Regions from separate parts of the Homo sapiens genome. Here region 1 is linked to region 2. The links come from fine-mapping of genetic effects on gene expression. Tissue or cell type: whole blood. Region 2 holds a variant in brackets; the other region holds the start of a gene. All regions are shown on one strand. Distances are from middle to middle.

Region 1 (8,097 bases), 130 kb before region 2:
AAATAGGAGAAAAATTATTCAAAACACTGCAGAATTTTCTGACCTGAGCTTCCTTATGCATTTAAAATGCAGATAGCCACACACCGCACCCCCCCCCCAACCCCGCCAAAAAGAAAAGAAAATAGAAAAGGTTACTTTGGGGGAATTTTATATATCAGAAATATTAGCAGGTCCTATAAAGTTACTTCTTTTTAATTTATTGGCCTGAAAAATCAAACTTTTACAATTTTCACTAGCAATTCCCATTTCATGTCATTAATTATTTTTTTCAAAAGTCTTTGTTTTATCATTTTCAAAGCATTTTCACAAATTACTATGAAGAAATGCAGCACTGATACCTAGAGGCTATACCTTTCAACAGAACTCTCACCAGCCAGACTGCTCATTTCAATTAGTTCAGCCATCTTTTCCCTAGGCCCTGGGTCCACACTTTTCCTTAGGGGTAGACATCAGAAAAGCTGAGCTCTACCCACAACAGCCTCTAGACTAACTGGCCCAGGGCAGACACTCTCAAGTCTGATCAGCGGAGTGCTTTCCCATAAAATCACTCACATTTCTGCATTCATGTGTTTTTCTTAACGACAGCACTTTAAAATCTCATTTAAACTGAAAATCCTCCATTAGCCTCCGTGAAAAGATGTATTTTTAAATGCTTTGATCTCCACATGCCCTTTGGAAAATTAGTATGCTACATCCTCCATCATCTGCAAAGAACCTGAAAGACCAAGACTTCTGTGCATTTTAAAAAGAAGGGGGAGGGAAAGGGGCGTTACAGGTACAGCACCTTCTCTCCTATCCACCTGCAGGTTTACAAAGGTTTCCTTATTTATCTTGAAAAATGCATCACAGAAAAACAAAAGTGCACTCCAAGAACTAAACATCCTCATCCCTCCCCCCAACCCCCACCACCATCATAAGGAAAAGTAGAGCCTGTATAAAGCCTTCTACCTATGTCCTACCCTTTTCATTCTGGTCGAATCGGTGTTTTCCTTCATTCTAGTCAAATCAGTGCTTTTCCACCCTTTACTAACAGTTCAAAGTATATTAAACTACTGTTCCCACATTATTCTCATAAAGAGCCTTCAAAGTAGATACACACTATAAGGCTCAGAGCACCTTACTAGGAAGTAAATGTCAGTTGCTCTAGATTCTTTAAGACCTTGCAATCTAGAGAGCTCCTTAATCGTTAACCTGGGTCTGACTTCCACAGCTGCCCGGGCCCAGGAGTGGTATGCAGCCAGGGGAAATCTTAGCCAGTTTGGCAGTGACCCATAGGCCAGTTTTGGAAGCAGGGAGCCATGATTGTTTAATATTTCAAGCCTTGACTTTTTGCTTCCCGAAAAGGAAGGAAATTTTCTGGAACTGTAGCTATTAATAGCCCTCTATTCTGGTTTAATTCGTTTATGGTGAGCAGGTTAGCACGTTACTGCTTTGGTTAGCCGAAAGCATCTTCGAGGTATCACAACTGGCTCTCGAGACCACGTACCCCACCACCACCAAGGCCTTCTATAAGCAGTACAAAAACTCAGTTCTCATAACATGCCTCAGGAGAAGAAAATGGGAAACCAAGGCCTCACAGAGAAAGGGAGCTGAGGGACCATGGGGACAAAATGTTGGGTCCAAACCGCATCGTCTCAGGAGGCCGCACGCTCAGGGCCCACCTCTGAAACCCCAGTCCAGGTGATCCACACGCTAGCCCGGCCAAAAGGTATTTGCCACGCGGAGACAGGAAACCAACACCGAAGCCAAAAAGGCAAAAATCTTCGAACAAAAATGGAAAAGGAAAGTCTTCCTAGTCATCAGTAAAGATAGGAAGAGTAGGGTGGGCGAGGCGCGGGAGCTTTGCGCAGATACCCGGGATTCTCGGCCTGGGGCTCTGAGGGGGGAAACTTGGACACGTCGCCGCGAGCGCAGTCCAGGTAGCGGAGGCCCTAGAGGTGCGCGCCAGGGCTCGTCTGCTCTGCCGCCGCGTCCTCCAGCCCGGCCGCCTATGGGGCACGCTCGGTCCCTGTCCCGGCACTAGGCCACCGTTCCGCTCGGCTGTCATCGGCCAACGTACCACTCTCCCTCCTGCCACAAATGTCACATTCCAAGAAAAAACAGTTCCATTTGGAAAGTTTAAATTTTCTCCCCGCGAAAGCAGATTATTGTAAAGGCAGCCCTAACAGGCAAGCGGGAGCTGGATGTAACTCTCCAGTTTGTCAAAGAAACTTGTCTGGGGAGAGAACAAAGAAGGAGCAGCAGCTAACGCGATCCGAGCGTCTGGGGCTGGGGTGCGACCCTTTCGTCGCCCCCACCCGCCAGAGCCGGGTCTGGCCGGCGGGCAGAAAGGGTCCAGTCCACAGCGCCAGAGCCCGTCGGGCGGGCCGGTGCGCGCGCCTTTGTCTCGCGCCGGGGAAAGCTGCACCGGACACCCCCTTCCGTCCCCTCCCTCGCCGCGAGACCCGCGCGCGGGCGCGGGCGCGCCTCGGAGTGTCTGGCCATATGGCTGCGCCCCTCAGGAAAGGCCAGCCCCGCGTCGGGCGCGCAGCACCCCGGGGCCCAAACCCCGGGGCCACAACTTCAGTCAACGTGGGTCGCGGGGCGGCAAGACGCTGAGGCCCGGCCCGCAGGCAACTGGACCTGGAGCGGGGCAAGGGAACCCGCTTAAAAACAACAATCTGGGATCTCAGCCCCGGGCCCCCAGAAGCTGCCCCCTTCCGTGAGCAGCAGGGGCCCGGGGAGCCCGGGGCGACTGGGTTCTTCGCGTGGGAGACTCGGAGACGCCCTCCCGGCACCTCGAGTGGGGGCTGGTTACCTTTCACCGCAGGCTCACAAGTTCCCCGGCGCAACTTTGCCCTCCACATGAGGCGATCATGGCTAGTTCAGTCCCTCGGCTGGGGAAGACGGCTGCCGGGCAGCGCGGGGAAGTGGCGCCGGACAATCAACCCCATTCACACAGGGCTTCACCTCCAGCCCCAAACCCGACAACCGCTGCTGGGTCCTAGAGCTTCTCGCGCGCTCCCGCCGCCGTCCGCGCTCCCCGCTCCCCGCGCGCGGGCCGGGGAGGGTCGCCCGGGCTCGTCACTAGAACCCTACACTCCACCCCCGCCGTGGCGCCCGGCCGCTGGGCCCTAGAGCCCGTCTGCAGACACCCGCCGCCCCTCCCCGGGCCGCGAGACTGCCAGGCTGAAATTGCCCAGAGCTCAAGCTGACGTGTCTCCCTGAGACTTAGGAGGGCGACAGCATCCCTTCCTTTGTCCCCTGCCGGGTTTTGATTAATTTCAGACTCACCAGTTCTCCCTCCACTTTGTCTTCCTTCCCCACCAGCCCAATGCCGGCCAAAATTCTGTTTCCGGATCTGCCCAAAAGTCTAGATTTGCTTAGGTTGGTTTTTTTTCTTCTTAAGTGGAATTTCCAGGTAGAAAGTGGCCACACTTTTCTCAGCATTCCCCAGGCCCCAGTGCTTCCATCACGCACTTGAGATTGGGCGATAAGCTGCTACTATGTGCTCCGTTGACAAACAGAAGGGCCAAAACAGACCTGACAGCCTCGGATATTAAATGTGTTCGCAGAACCGTACATCCTCTGGCCATAAATCCCCAGGCTGTTATCTGCCTGAGTAGAGGTAAAGAAAGTAAGCGACTCTGGGAAAATGTTGCCCCACCTCTTAAAATCAGGCTGTGCTGAGAACTACTCATCCACCTCATTATATTGGTTTATACTGGCGGCTCTCTGGAGCCCTAATCTGGGGTGCCCGAGCCTGCCCCATAGCACTTCTGCCTGGCTTTTTCCGGGCAGCTCTACTGCTTGGAGAAGAGAAAGCTAGGTAACTGTACAGTTGCTGCCCAGGATGTTAGTGGGAGAGTTAGCGCACACCAAGCCTCTCTTATCTGGTGCTCCCTGCCTCTGTTTACCTGCTATCTAGGTCCGGCCTTCAGGGACTCCTCCCTGGATTGTGGCAGTTCCCTAACTAGACTGCCAGCAGTTTTACCTCTCATCAGTTCTGGTGGGTTGCATGTCCTGATTCTGATTCCCCTGATGGGCCCTCCTACTGAGTAAACTCTGCTCTCAAGATAAAGCCCAAATGTAATCATTTAACAATTATTTATGAAATGCCTACTCCATTTAAAGTCATCTACCCTGGTACACACAAAAGAAACTTAGCACACAAAAGAAACTTAGAGCAGCTGACCAGCCCTTCAAGGATCTGTTATCTGTCTAAGAAGACAAGATGTGTGAACAGAAAACAGGCAAGCAACAAAGCAGGAGATCCAAGTACTGCAGATGCCTGGGAAGGGCGGAGAGAGGCACTGACTACACAGAAGGAAAAGCCTGGGAGGGTGGTGGAGTTCAGACACAGCAGAAAGAGGAAAAGGCAGCACTGGGCAAGCAGAGGCAAAAGCCAAGAGGGAGATGACAAGGTCTGGGTGCTTGGGAAGAAGGCATAGAGGAAAGCGTTTTTACCAGAAACGAGGAGAAAACAAGGGAAGGCAGAATAACAACGTCACAAAAATGTAGGCCTGGAAAGAATCTAAGAAAGTGTCAACTAAACCTTTCACTTGCCGGATGAAGAAGCTCAGGCATAGCTGTTGAATGACTTGTCCAATGTTACAGAACAAGTTTAGTAGCAAAGCCAGGTATAGAAACAACCTCTGCCTCAATGTGCCTTGTATTACACATTGTGAACCCTGAATCGCAAATTAGGAGCTGAAGTGGTTATCTTATGGACAGTGAAGGGACCACTGATTCACCTAACATTTGCGCGAATTTAATACAAATTGGGGAAGAAGTGATGGATAGAAAAAGAAGAAAGGAAACTAATCTTTACTAATTGCCCACTCCTAGATACCATCCTATAGTCTAGGAAGCAGCAAAATTTCCAAGTTACAACCATCAAGTTTAGAACAAAACAGGCATGAGCTGAGTTGCAGCTCCACCATTCAGTATCTGTGTGACGCTGAGCAAGTTGCCTAACTTCTCTAAACCTCAGTATCCTTTTTGGCAAGATGAAGAAAATAGCATCTCACAGAGTGGTTGTGAAGACTGAATAAAATAACAAATGTAAAATACTCAGCACAATGCATGTAGTATTCAATATACATTTGCTATTATTATTTCAAGAGACTATCTAGGATAGTTGCAGGAAGCAATGATAGGTGAGGTTGACAGAGGTGATAAAAAGGAAATGAGAGATACCATATCTTTGGAGATACCAGATGTCATAAAGAAAGGTATCAAATCTTTGAAGCAAGATTTTATTCTTCTCATTGACTCGTTGTTTATCCTGGGGAAAAGGACAAAGTAATCAAGTTAACCTAGGCTTTGAGCCCAGTCATAGGAAGAATAGATCTTGCAGTCTTAGAAGAATGGATCATTAGACCAATGACAGATGAAGCACAGTTGAGAAGAGGAAACGGTTTGAGAAAGATGCTGAGTGACTTACTATCCTCTGGGCAAGAGGAAACAAGGAACAAGGGACTGGGTGAGAAGTGGAGGACAGAGGTGTAGAGAAAAGGAGAGATGAAGCTTTGAAGATCAGTTCATTAACAGAATGTCCACAACTGGAAAACAGGGAAAGAAGGAGGGAGAAGAGGAAGAATCTGGAGAAGTAGAAGAGCTGGGAAAAGGTAAAGGCATGGAAGCCAGAGGAAGTTTTAAGAAGTGGGTCCTTCTATCAAATGCTACAGATTCTTAGACCTGCAATGAAGTGCTAGGCACAGCTTGTGGGTTCAAGGATCTTCTGATTCAATCAGGTGGACCTAGCCTAGACTCCTCAAATTAATACCCAGTAATCAGATACATGGAAGCACAGGCAGAAAACACTGCTGGAGACCAATGTTTCCCTCCTGTGCCTTAATTTCCTTATCTGTGAATAAGCTCTACATCAAATGCAGAAAACAATCTTTTCAGGCCTTAACTTAGTTCCTGAATCTATTGTTCAGGAACTAAGGCCTGCAAAAAAAGACTCTGAATTTCACTAGCAAGAAGTTATCAATAACATCTTTCAGTAAGCACACTTGGCTGGAGATTCTGATGTCTGGTTTGTGTCTAATGGAAACAAAGTATGTTTACAATAAAAATTGAACACACCTTCACTAACAGCAAGGTAGTGAACCAGTCCACATCTGTGCCTTCTTTAGATCTATGCACTCATCCTAAAGGTCAGCATCCTTTCTAAAGTGACCCAAGTTGTCATTTACTCATTCCTAAGAAAGCTAAGAAGATGATGGGCCAATTTTAGTGCTCTTTGGGGCAGCCCAGAGAGCAGTCTTTCACTCAAAACAGGACGAGTACCAGGATGTTCCAGTGATACCAAGCTGTTCCCAACAAGCATAGAGGCGGGAAGAATGTTGAAGTAACAGAGGCATCTGGATAGAGGAGAATGAGCAGGGCCTTTACAGTAAGACCTGCTTCTAGTCCATGTTCTATCTATTTCTAGACACGGAGAGCCTCAGCTTCCTCCTCTATAAAATAATAACATTTGCCTCATAAACTTATTGCAAGGGTTAAATGAGATAATACAGGTCAAGTGCTGGGCACATCTAGGAATTCAGTAAAAGTTAGAAACCCTCCTCTTCTCCAGTAATTTGAAATACCAAGGAATTTAAATACTCTATTAAAATGCAAATGTCTTTCTCCTCTCACTTTTCTCAGCACCCCTTCTTGACAAACATTTAAAGTCTTTACCAGCTAATACTTTCACTGAATGGGCCCTAAGAATGGGCTTGGGCTTGCAAAGACAGAGAAGCCAAACAGCAAAAGAAGAGTGGATGAACATGACTACGTAAGGAACAGCTACTACACACAGCCTCACCTGGGACCATCGCTACAACTGGTAGTTCTCCATTAATGACTGTTGAATGAACAAACCAATGATTTGATGCACCCAGGCTGCTTTGATCAAAATGCTTGTTTTGCTCCTAGAACAAGTAAGGATATTTTTTAAGTTCAATTTCAAGCACTTTCTGAAGTGTAACTTATGAAACCAAAGCATGTAAAAATTTAAACTCCTCATGTTCCACCTCCAAATTTCTGAATCTCTAAAGGTGCAGTCCTAGAATCCACTCGAAATGACTCCTAGCACATTGAGGTTTCCAGCTGGCTCACTGGGGTTAGTCAGTGCTCCTGCAATTCACTTTCAGAAGTATTTACTACATCAGAGTGTAGTATGCTAAAGATAAAAAATGATGGTGAACACACTAGAGATTAGACACAAAGCATTATGGGAGCATAGAGGAATGATGCACAGGAAAAAAACGGGCAAGTTCCAAGAAATCCAGGTGCTGAGAGGAGGATATTTCGAGCAAAGGCATGGACACAAGGAAGGAAAGCATACGCTGCCATGCTTCTAAACACCTTTTCTTTTAATTTCTTCTTTTTATAAACATCAAATGGTCACATCAACCCCAGAGTTAATAAACCCCTATATAATCACCAGGTGAGAAGTTTTTTTCCAACCTTTTCTTTCAGTTCTCTGTTTTACAATGGCAATACAGCAGACCCTTGCACAACACAGGTTTGAACAGTGCAGGTCAACTTACACACAGATCTTCCTCCACCTCTGCCACCCTGAACCAGCAAGCCCAACCCACCCCCTTCTTCCTCCTCCTCAGCCTACTCAATGTGAAGATGACAAGGATGAAGACTTTTATGATGATCATCTCTGCCTTGTGATTTTCTTAATAACATTTTCTTTTCTATAGCTTATTATTTATTGTAAGAATACAGTATTAATACATATAACATATGAAATATGTGTTAATCAACTGTTTATATTATCGGTAAGGCTTCCAGTCAACAGTAGGCTATTAGCAGTTAAGTTTTTGGGGAGTCAGAAGTTATATTTGGATTTTCAACTGTGTGAGGGGGTCAGCGCCCGTGACTCCTGCATTGTTCAAGGGTCAACTCTAGTGTGTTTTTTCCTGCCTTTTTCTAAATATAAAATAATATTCTCAAATAAGCTTTTTCACACAGCACATGCCTCCTCTGAAGATTCTGACACATGCCCTGCCCTGCAAACTGTTGGCAGGAGCATAATTCAGGGAATACTGGCAGTGTCTAAAGCAGAGAGTACTGAGTGTACATTGTCGTAAGGAGAGGAAAGGGCAAGGGGAT
Region 2 (8,104 bases):
GACACGGCTTAGGAGGAATCCTGGGCTGCAGGCATTCCTTGGCTTGGTGGTCAGATTTCTGGCACTTGTAGCGAGCTCCTGGGGAGGAGGTTCTGGAGGAACGCCTGGCCGCTGCGGTTCAGGCGTTTGGAAGTTCTTGTGTGCTGGAGATGTGGCTGGGGTTTGTCTCACAGTGGAGACAAGGAATTGCAACTTTTTTCTATTGTTGTACACCTTGAAGGCGAGGTTAATTAAATCCTGGTGTGGGGTTTGAGGGCCAGAATTTAATTTTTGGAGTTTTATTTAATGTCGGGAGCAGATTGGGTAATAAAATGTATATTGAGAATAGGACGGCCTTTTGACCTTTTAGGGTGTAGGGCTGTAAAGCGTCTCAGGGTTGCTGCCGAACGAGCCATGAACTGGGCTGGGTTTTTTATATTTGATGAAAAAGAGCCTAAATGTTATCTGATTTGGGATAAAGAAAAAGGAGCATTAAACCTTGACTATGCCTTTAGCTCTAGTCACCTTTTTAAGAGCAAATTGCTGGGCAGGTAGGGGAGGGCTAGTCACGGAATGAAACTAAGCCAGACCAACTAAGCCAGAGCGGGTGTGAGGAGGGGAGGTGATAAAAGGATTATAGGGTGGAGGAGCGGAGGCTGAGGAAGAATTGGGATCTAGCTCGGCCTGGCGAGGAGCAGCCTGGGGAGGAGGGGAGAGGTCAGATGGGTCTGTAGAAAAGGAAGATTAGAAAGACTCAGTGACGCTTGGGGTTGGGACTGAGGGGACAGGTGGGAGGGAAAGAAGGAAGATTTGGGATGAGTTGCATTGGGAACAGAGACTAGAGAGGGACCGACGTGTAAAAGAATGCCTGGATGTCAGGCACCTCAGACCATTTGCCCATTTTATGACAAGAATTATTTAGATCTTGTAGGATGGAAAAATTGAAAGTGCCATTTTCTGGCTATTTGGAACTACTGTCGAGTTTGTATTGGGGTCAAGCGGCATTGCAGAAGAAAATAAGATGCTTAGATTTTAGGTCAGGTGAGAGTTGAAGAGGTTTTAAGTTCTTAAGAACACAGGCTAAGGGAGAAGAAGGAGGAATGGAAGGTGGAAGCTTGCCCATAGTAAAGGAGGCAAGCCCAGAGAAAACAGTAGAGACACGGAGAAGGGGTGGGGAGTTCTTGCCCTCCAGAAAAGCAGAGAAGGGGTTGGGGCACAAAGGTGCAGAGATATAAGAGGTTGGGGCGCGGAAATAAGGGATTGGGGTGCAGAGATATAAGAGGTTGGGGCATGGAAATAAGGGATCGGGGCACAGAGATATAAGGGGTTGGGGTGGGGAAATAAGGGATGGGGCGCAGAGATATAAGGGGTTGGGGTATTTGCCTCTCCCCTAGAAAAGCGGGACTTGCCGCTAAGGGTGAAGGAGAAGGGGTTGGGGGTTTCTTGCCCCCCAGAAAGGTGAAGAAGGGGTAGAGACATGGAGAGAAGGGGTTGGGGTATTGCCCCTTCCCCAGAAAAGCGGGACTTGCTGCTAAGGGTGAAGGACCAAGACAGGCGTCCCTGCATGGTCTGACACCTCTGAAACTTGGGTGAATAATCAGGCATCCCTGCAATGATTAAACACCAAGGGAAGGCTGCCTTCCCTAGTCCGTGACCGACACCGGAGTTTTGGGTCCACAGATAAAACGTGTCTCCTTCGTCTCTACCAGAAAATGAAAGGAATTGAAATTAAGAGAAGGGAAAGATTGAAGAGTGGAAAGGAGAAAGTGGTTGAGGGACAGTGAGAGAGCTTGGAGAAGAGAGTAAGAAGAGGCCGCTTACCCGATTTAAAATTGGTGAGATGTTCCTTGGGCTGGTCGGTCTGAGGACCTGAGGTCGTAGGTGGATCTTTCCCATGGAGCAAAGAACAGGAGGACAGGGGATTGATCTCCCAAGGGAGGTCCCCCAATCCGAGTCACAGCACCAAATTTCATGTGCGTCTGTGTAAAGAGACCACCAAACAGGCTTTGTGTGAGCAATAAAGCTTTTAATCACCTGGGTGCACGCGGGCTGAGTCCGAAAAGAGAGTCAGCAAAGGCAGATAGGGGTGGGGCCGTTTTATAAGATTTGGGTAGGTAAAGGAAAATTACAGTCAAAGGGGGTTGTTCTCTGGCGGGCAGGAGTGGGGGTCACAAGGTACTCAGTGGGGGAGCTTTTGAGCCAGGATGAGCCAGGAGAAGGAATTTCACAAGACAATGTCATCAGTTAAGGCAGGAACAGGCCATTTTCACTTTTTTTGTGGTGGAATGTCATCAGTTAAGGCAGGAACCCACCATCTGGATGTGTACGTGCAGGTCACAGGGGACATGATGGCTCAGCTTGGGCTCAGAGGCCTGACAAAGACAACTGCTTTTCTTCCAGGGCTGATGAGAGACCCAAAGGATAAATAGAGCTTAAAGCAAGTTGGAAGCCGTAGACCATTATGCAGATGCCATATATTATTACTTCTTTACAGTTGGGTTGGTTACTAGAGGACTCACCAGCCCCAGCACCCAGATCTCATGCCTCCTAGCCTTCATGGTTTCCAGAGACATTCTGAATAGCCACGGGCCGGCTGGTGCTGACAACTTGGTGTATTCTGGCCAATGGGGGAGGGAGCTGAACGAAGGGATGTGGGCAGGGAGCCATAGTTCTTCCTGCCAAAGCAGAATCTTTGCCTAATTTCCCCATGACAGTCCTACGTCCATGAAGAACTGAGGAGAATGACATCAGTAAGTCTTACACTCGAGTTTTCTGTCAGAGCAGGTGCAACTTCAAAACTGCTTCCGCCCTCAGGACCAGGCATTTCCTAAACACCCCTCCTCCTTCACTTCTCTTCTCACTGCTGCCTGTGGCTGAGGTATTCTTAATGACAAGCCATCGAGTCCATGATAATCAGCTGAGGAGTGATTCTCATTAGATTTCAGGGAAGGAAAAGGCTCAGGCCATGACTGAAGGATGGAAAATAAGAAGGAATATAGCTAACCTGGCCTCTTCACCTGACTCTACTTAGAGTCCATCTTGACAAGCAGATTGGAGTCATGACAGTTCAGACCTGAAATGCTGGTTTTTATTTAAAGGAGACAGGTGGGAAGAGGGGGATGGGAATAACAACACAGCCATTTGCTGCATAACTAATTACCAAAAATTAACAGCTTAAAACTTAAAACAGCTCCCATAGACCAGGAGTCCAGGTTCAGTGTCTCGCAGACTATAATCAGGGAGGGTCTAGCGTCCCATCTGAGGCTCAGAGGGGCAGGGGCGGGGCGGGGGGTGGTGGTGGTGGTGATGGTGGTGGTGGTCTTCCAAGCACACGTGGTTGTTGTCAGAATTGATTTCCTTGCAGCTGTAGAACTGAAGCATCTTGCCTCTTCAAGGCTAACAGGAAAGAGTGAGTCTCTGACTCTAGGCTTCTTACTTGACATTCTCCAGGAACTCACCTGATTAGGTCAGGCCCACCCAGGATTATCTCCCTTTTCATTAACTTCACCTCAACTGCAGGATTTCTTCACCTTTACTATATTCTACTTTTCAGAAGCAAGTTATACATCCCTCCCACAACTGAAGGGGAGAGGATGACACAAAGATGTGGATACCAGGCAAAGAAATCATAGAGGCCATTTAAAAATTCTACCTACTACATCCTCCGTTTGCTGAGCTCCATGTGTGTGTTGCAGGACTTTCTCCTTAGTTCAGCTAAAGA[C/T]GGGGTCCTTGTCAAACATCCATGAAATATTAGGCTTGCAGACACTTTGAAGGGTGAGAAAAATGGTATTTATTGGGCGAAAAGGGAAAAAAAAAAAGGAAAAACAGAGACTCTCCGGAAAGCCAGAGTCCTGCTACTGCACTTCCTGCCTGGCGAACTGAATCCCAGGTTCCACCCAGGAAGAGGGCGGCAGGCTCCTCCCCACTGCAAACCACGCGAACCTCCCAAGGCTCCACCCCAGCGTGCATTCCTCCCAGTGTGCAGGTCAGGGAGGCTCTGCCAGGGAGCACTTCCTACCTGGCTGTCTCATGTGGGGTGTGTGTTTGTGTGTGTAACAGAAATCAACTTGTTCCGACTCACCTTAGCAAAATCAGGGGGATTGGTTTTAAGGAAACGATGTCTTGTGGACCCAGGATACAAATGCAGCCTGACCTGTGGAAGGACAGGAGTTAGGGTGAGGAAAGCCATAGGGAAACTTGGATCCCTATGGCTTCATCATTCTCTCTCTCTCTGTGAACCAACTTTATCTGCTGTCCAATTTGTGCTTTACAGTTCCAGCCATGGTTCCAACAACCATGCTATCTCATCCCATTGTCTCTGGTAGAATCAGTATCTCTCTCTTTCTCTCCTCCATTCCCAGTTCTAAATTCTTAGAGAAGGAATCTTGGGTGGGCTGCTCATCTGTATTGTAGTTGTCTGTGGCCAGAGAGGACAGGATGCATGTTACAAGCATGGCTGCTGGGAATCCACCCATGGTGATCATGTAGCGAAGGGAGGATGGGGTCAGTTCCAGGAGAAAGAGGCTGAGGTCCCAAGAGATGTCCACTGCATGGTGTCAGGCTTTGTCATTAGTGGCCAGTATGTGCATATGCCACATCATCTGGTGCACAACTGAGCAGCAAGGCCTTTTGCTGGTGGAGGGGGCGGAATGAGACATGTTTAACAGTGTTCCACAGTTAGTACTATGTGCTGCATAAACCAGGGACTTGTTTCCAGCCGGAAGTGATGCTTCCTGTCAAAATCAGTTTACAGCTATGTTCCCATCACCCCAGCACTTAGAAGAAGGCTGATCCCACAGAAAGAATTCAGCAGCTGCAGAGAATGAGGATATAGGCACACAGGGCCCAATTTAGAGACACAGCCCTGCAGCATCTCATAAACCTTTTTTAGAAATGGCTGAGAAAGAGCTGCTTTGAGCAAGAAGTGAAAGTAAAGAAGGATTGGGTAATCAAAAGCCCGGAAGAAGGAAGGGAATCTTCCAGCACAGAGTGTAATGCTCATGTTTTGCTAAGAAGAAAGTGAGACACACAAAAGGCTCCAGACAGGGCGAGTTATTAAACCTCAGACATGCTGCTTAAGAGCTCTTACCAATTCTTACTTATGAGGAACTGGCTTCCAGATCTCTCGTGTGTCTTATAGTTGTTTTATACAAGTGTGCACAGGGAGGTATAAACTGGATGTGATTCTCACCCCAGGATGTGGGTGCTTACCAACCAGTCCTTCTGCAGTCTTCACATAGTTCAAAGCCAAAGGATCATTTCCAGCGCTGACATATTTGTGGAATCTTCAAGGGAAAGGAAAAGGCTAACCCAAGGCAAAGTGTTATTTGCTCACATCACTTAAGGAATTTTTTCAAAATTCTAGAGATTAACGGGTAAGTCTATAAAATTCAAAAGGAACTACTATATTAAAGTAGGGTTGTCATCACTTCTCCTTGCAGTTATTGTCTCCCTGTCCCCTGGCTCCAAGTGCATTGCATCATGAAAGGAAACTGTCACTCTTTTCAGCATTGGCTGTTCTGACTTGGTATTTTACTGCATGGTGATCTGATGCTGTTGGGGAGACAGGCATGTGGAGCATTTTAAGCCACGAAGGAAGGTATGTGAACTAAATCCACAACTCACCTCTTAGGAACAACTGCCTGAGGATAGGGTTCTTTCAGAAAACATAAGCTCTGGTGACAAATTCACTCAACTGATTGCTGCACCTTGTTTTAGAAAATGCTTCTAGAGGTAGCAAAATAATTCACATGAGGATTTATGAAGATGTACTTCATCCTTGATTTGGGAAGAGGTGAGAGAGACGATGTCCACCTACCACGGTTCACCCATGTGAACTTTCTTGTTACTCCTACTGTGTCATCCAGTCACTGAGCAAAGTCCTGGGCACACTTCATTAAACACAGTACCTGCTTTTGAAGAATTCACAGTCTCACAGGAGAGAAGTATGTGTAAACTGATGGTTAAAATACATCACAGTGTTAGGTGTTGCAGAGGGGAATGGGCAAAGCATTATTAGATCATAGAAGGAATGACTAGGCATGCAGCTCCTTCCAGACTCAGCTTGGGAATCCTCCCAGTCCGACGGCTGTGCTCTACCACTCTCTGCTCACTTTCCACATGACATTGGTACTTTGTGCTCCTGTGTCTCTCTCCCCAACAAGGCTTCAAGCCAGGGTTTCTCAGCTTTGGCATTATTGACATTTTGGGCCAAATTTTTGATGGTAGGGAGGGGGAGCCGTCTTGTGCGTTGTAGAATGCTTAGCATCATCTCTGCCCTCTACCCAGGATCGCTGCCCTCTGTCTGCCAGTAATACACACACACACATACACACATATGACACAGACACACACAACACACACATGAACACAGACACACACATACCCCCCACACTATTAATGGCAATACAAAGTCTCTGCCAAATGTCCCCTAGGCAGCAAAATCGCCCCAGTTGAGAGTCCCTGCTTTAAGCTGTTCCAGGGCAGCAATGACATTTTCTTCATCTCTGAATCCCTGGTGCCCAGGACATTTCTGTCACTGCGAACCAAACAGAATATGGCTTGGAGGGATGAGGGAAGCCTTAAATAAGAGAACTATCTGATTCGAAGTATAAAGAGGAATCATCTAGGTCAGCACTCTCCTATAGAACTTTCTGTGATGATGGAAATGTTCTATGTCTTCACTTTCCAATACAGTGGCTGCTACGTGTGGCCTTTGAGTACTTGAAATGTATGACTGAGGAACTGGATTGATTTCAATTACTTTAAATGTAGCCTTCAAAGGCCACATGTGATTAGAGCCTCCATCTTAGATAGCACAGCTCAAGCACTGAGTGGCCTGGCCCAGGGTAAGCACTACTCATCAAATGCAAGTTTGGGTTTCAATAGATTCCCAGATGATTCAAATATATATTCATACTTCCAGTTTTTCTGACCATTATCCAAGCGTAAAGCAATATATTTTGGAATAAATTGAATATTCCCATGCTTCCTTCTAAAGAGATAATAAAAGAGGCTGATCCCACCTATTGTAAAGCAACCAGGGATGCCATTATTGAGGGGCTTGAAGATAGATGCTGATGAAATTCTTAGAATCACCCCATTTATTTAAAAGCAGCCCATCTGACTATCTAAGCTTCCATGCATTTATCTAAATAATGGATATTGAGGGCCTACCAGATGCTATTGTTCGATGAGATCACAAAGATATGCAAAACAGCCAGAGAGAAAAATGTAGAAAAAACTATGCTGCACTGTTAGAAGGGCAGGAATGGAGTTGTGTGTGTGGTACAGGGAGGATACAGGGAAGGGAGATTCTAAGTGCCTGAGATGGACAGAGAAGTTTTGACAGCAGAGCTGACACTGAGCTGAGCTTTAAGTGAGAATTAGCTGAGTCAGTTTCCTAAACTTATCTGAACAGCCACCAGACACAAACACACACAAAAATCACCTAGGGACTTGTTAAAAAATAAATTCTCAAGTTTCTTCCCTGGAAATTCTTAGTATAGAACTCAGTTTTAGCAAGCATCCCGGGCAAATATAGGAAGTGAGTGTTAGGAGAATGGGGCCCATAATTACCATGTGCTGATAGAAACGGTGCCAAGGTCTTGATAATGTTTCTGATAGCTAAAACTATCAGTATATCACATTTGACTTATATTAGAAGGCAGGAATTTGAAAAATAAAAGAATGAAAGAGAAAGGAAAGCTACCCATACTTCCACCATGTAGACCTAATCATTGATATTTTTGATAAATATTCTGCTTGTCTTTTTGTGTACACTCACACACACTCACACGAAACTGGAAGAATACTATACCTATTCCGTTTTTTACATACTTTTTTATCTTACAATAATTTTAGATTTAAAGAAAAGTTGCCAAGATAGGACAAAGTGTTCACATATACCCTACACCCAGTTTTCCCTATTATTGTCTTATATTAGTACACTGCCTTTGTAACAGTTAATGTACTAATATTTATATGTTACTGTTATCAAAAATCCATACCTCATTCAGATTTCCTTAATTATTATTCATTGCTCTTTTTCTATTCCAAGATCGGATCCAAGATATATTATATTTAATTACCATGTCTCCTTAGGCCTATCTTGGCTGTGACAGTT

The links. PIP is the estimated chance that this variant, and not a neighbour inherited with it, causes the effect.
Region 1: AMOTL1 starts here. The variant in region 2 is fine-mapped to the expression of AMOTL1 in whole blood (TOPMed, PIP 0.91).

What each region holds. Positions count from the first base shown.
Region 1 is chr11:94,763,261-94,771,357 of GRCh38, reverse strand. It overlaps AMOTL1 (angiomotin like 1), which reads right to left and starts at 3,002. Exons shown (of 13, transcript NM_130847.3): 1 at 2,798-3,002. The coding sequence starts at 2,846.
Region 2 is chr11:94,635,854-94,643,957 of GRCh38, reverse strand. All of the region lies in intron 4 of PIWIL4-AS1 (PIWIL4 antisense RNA 1), which reads left to right. LINC02700 (long intergenic non-protein coding RNA 2700) reads right to left here and starts at 5,915. Exons shown (of 6, transcript NR_187352.1): 1 at 5,605-5,915. RefSeq lists an enhancer at 3,444-3,943. The variant C/T (reference allele first, on the strand shown) is at 3,701.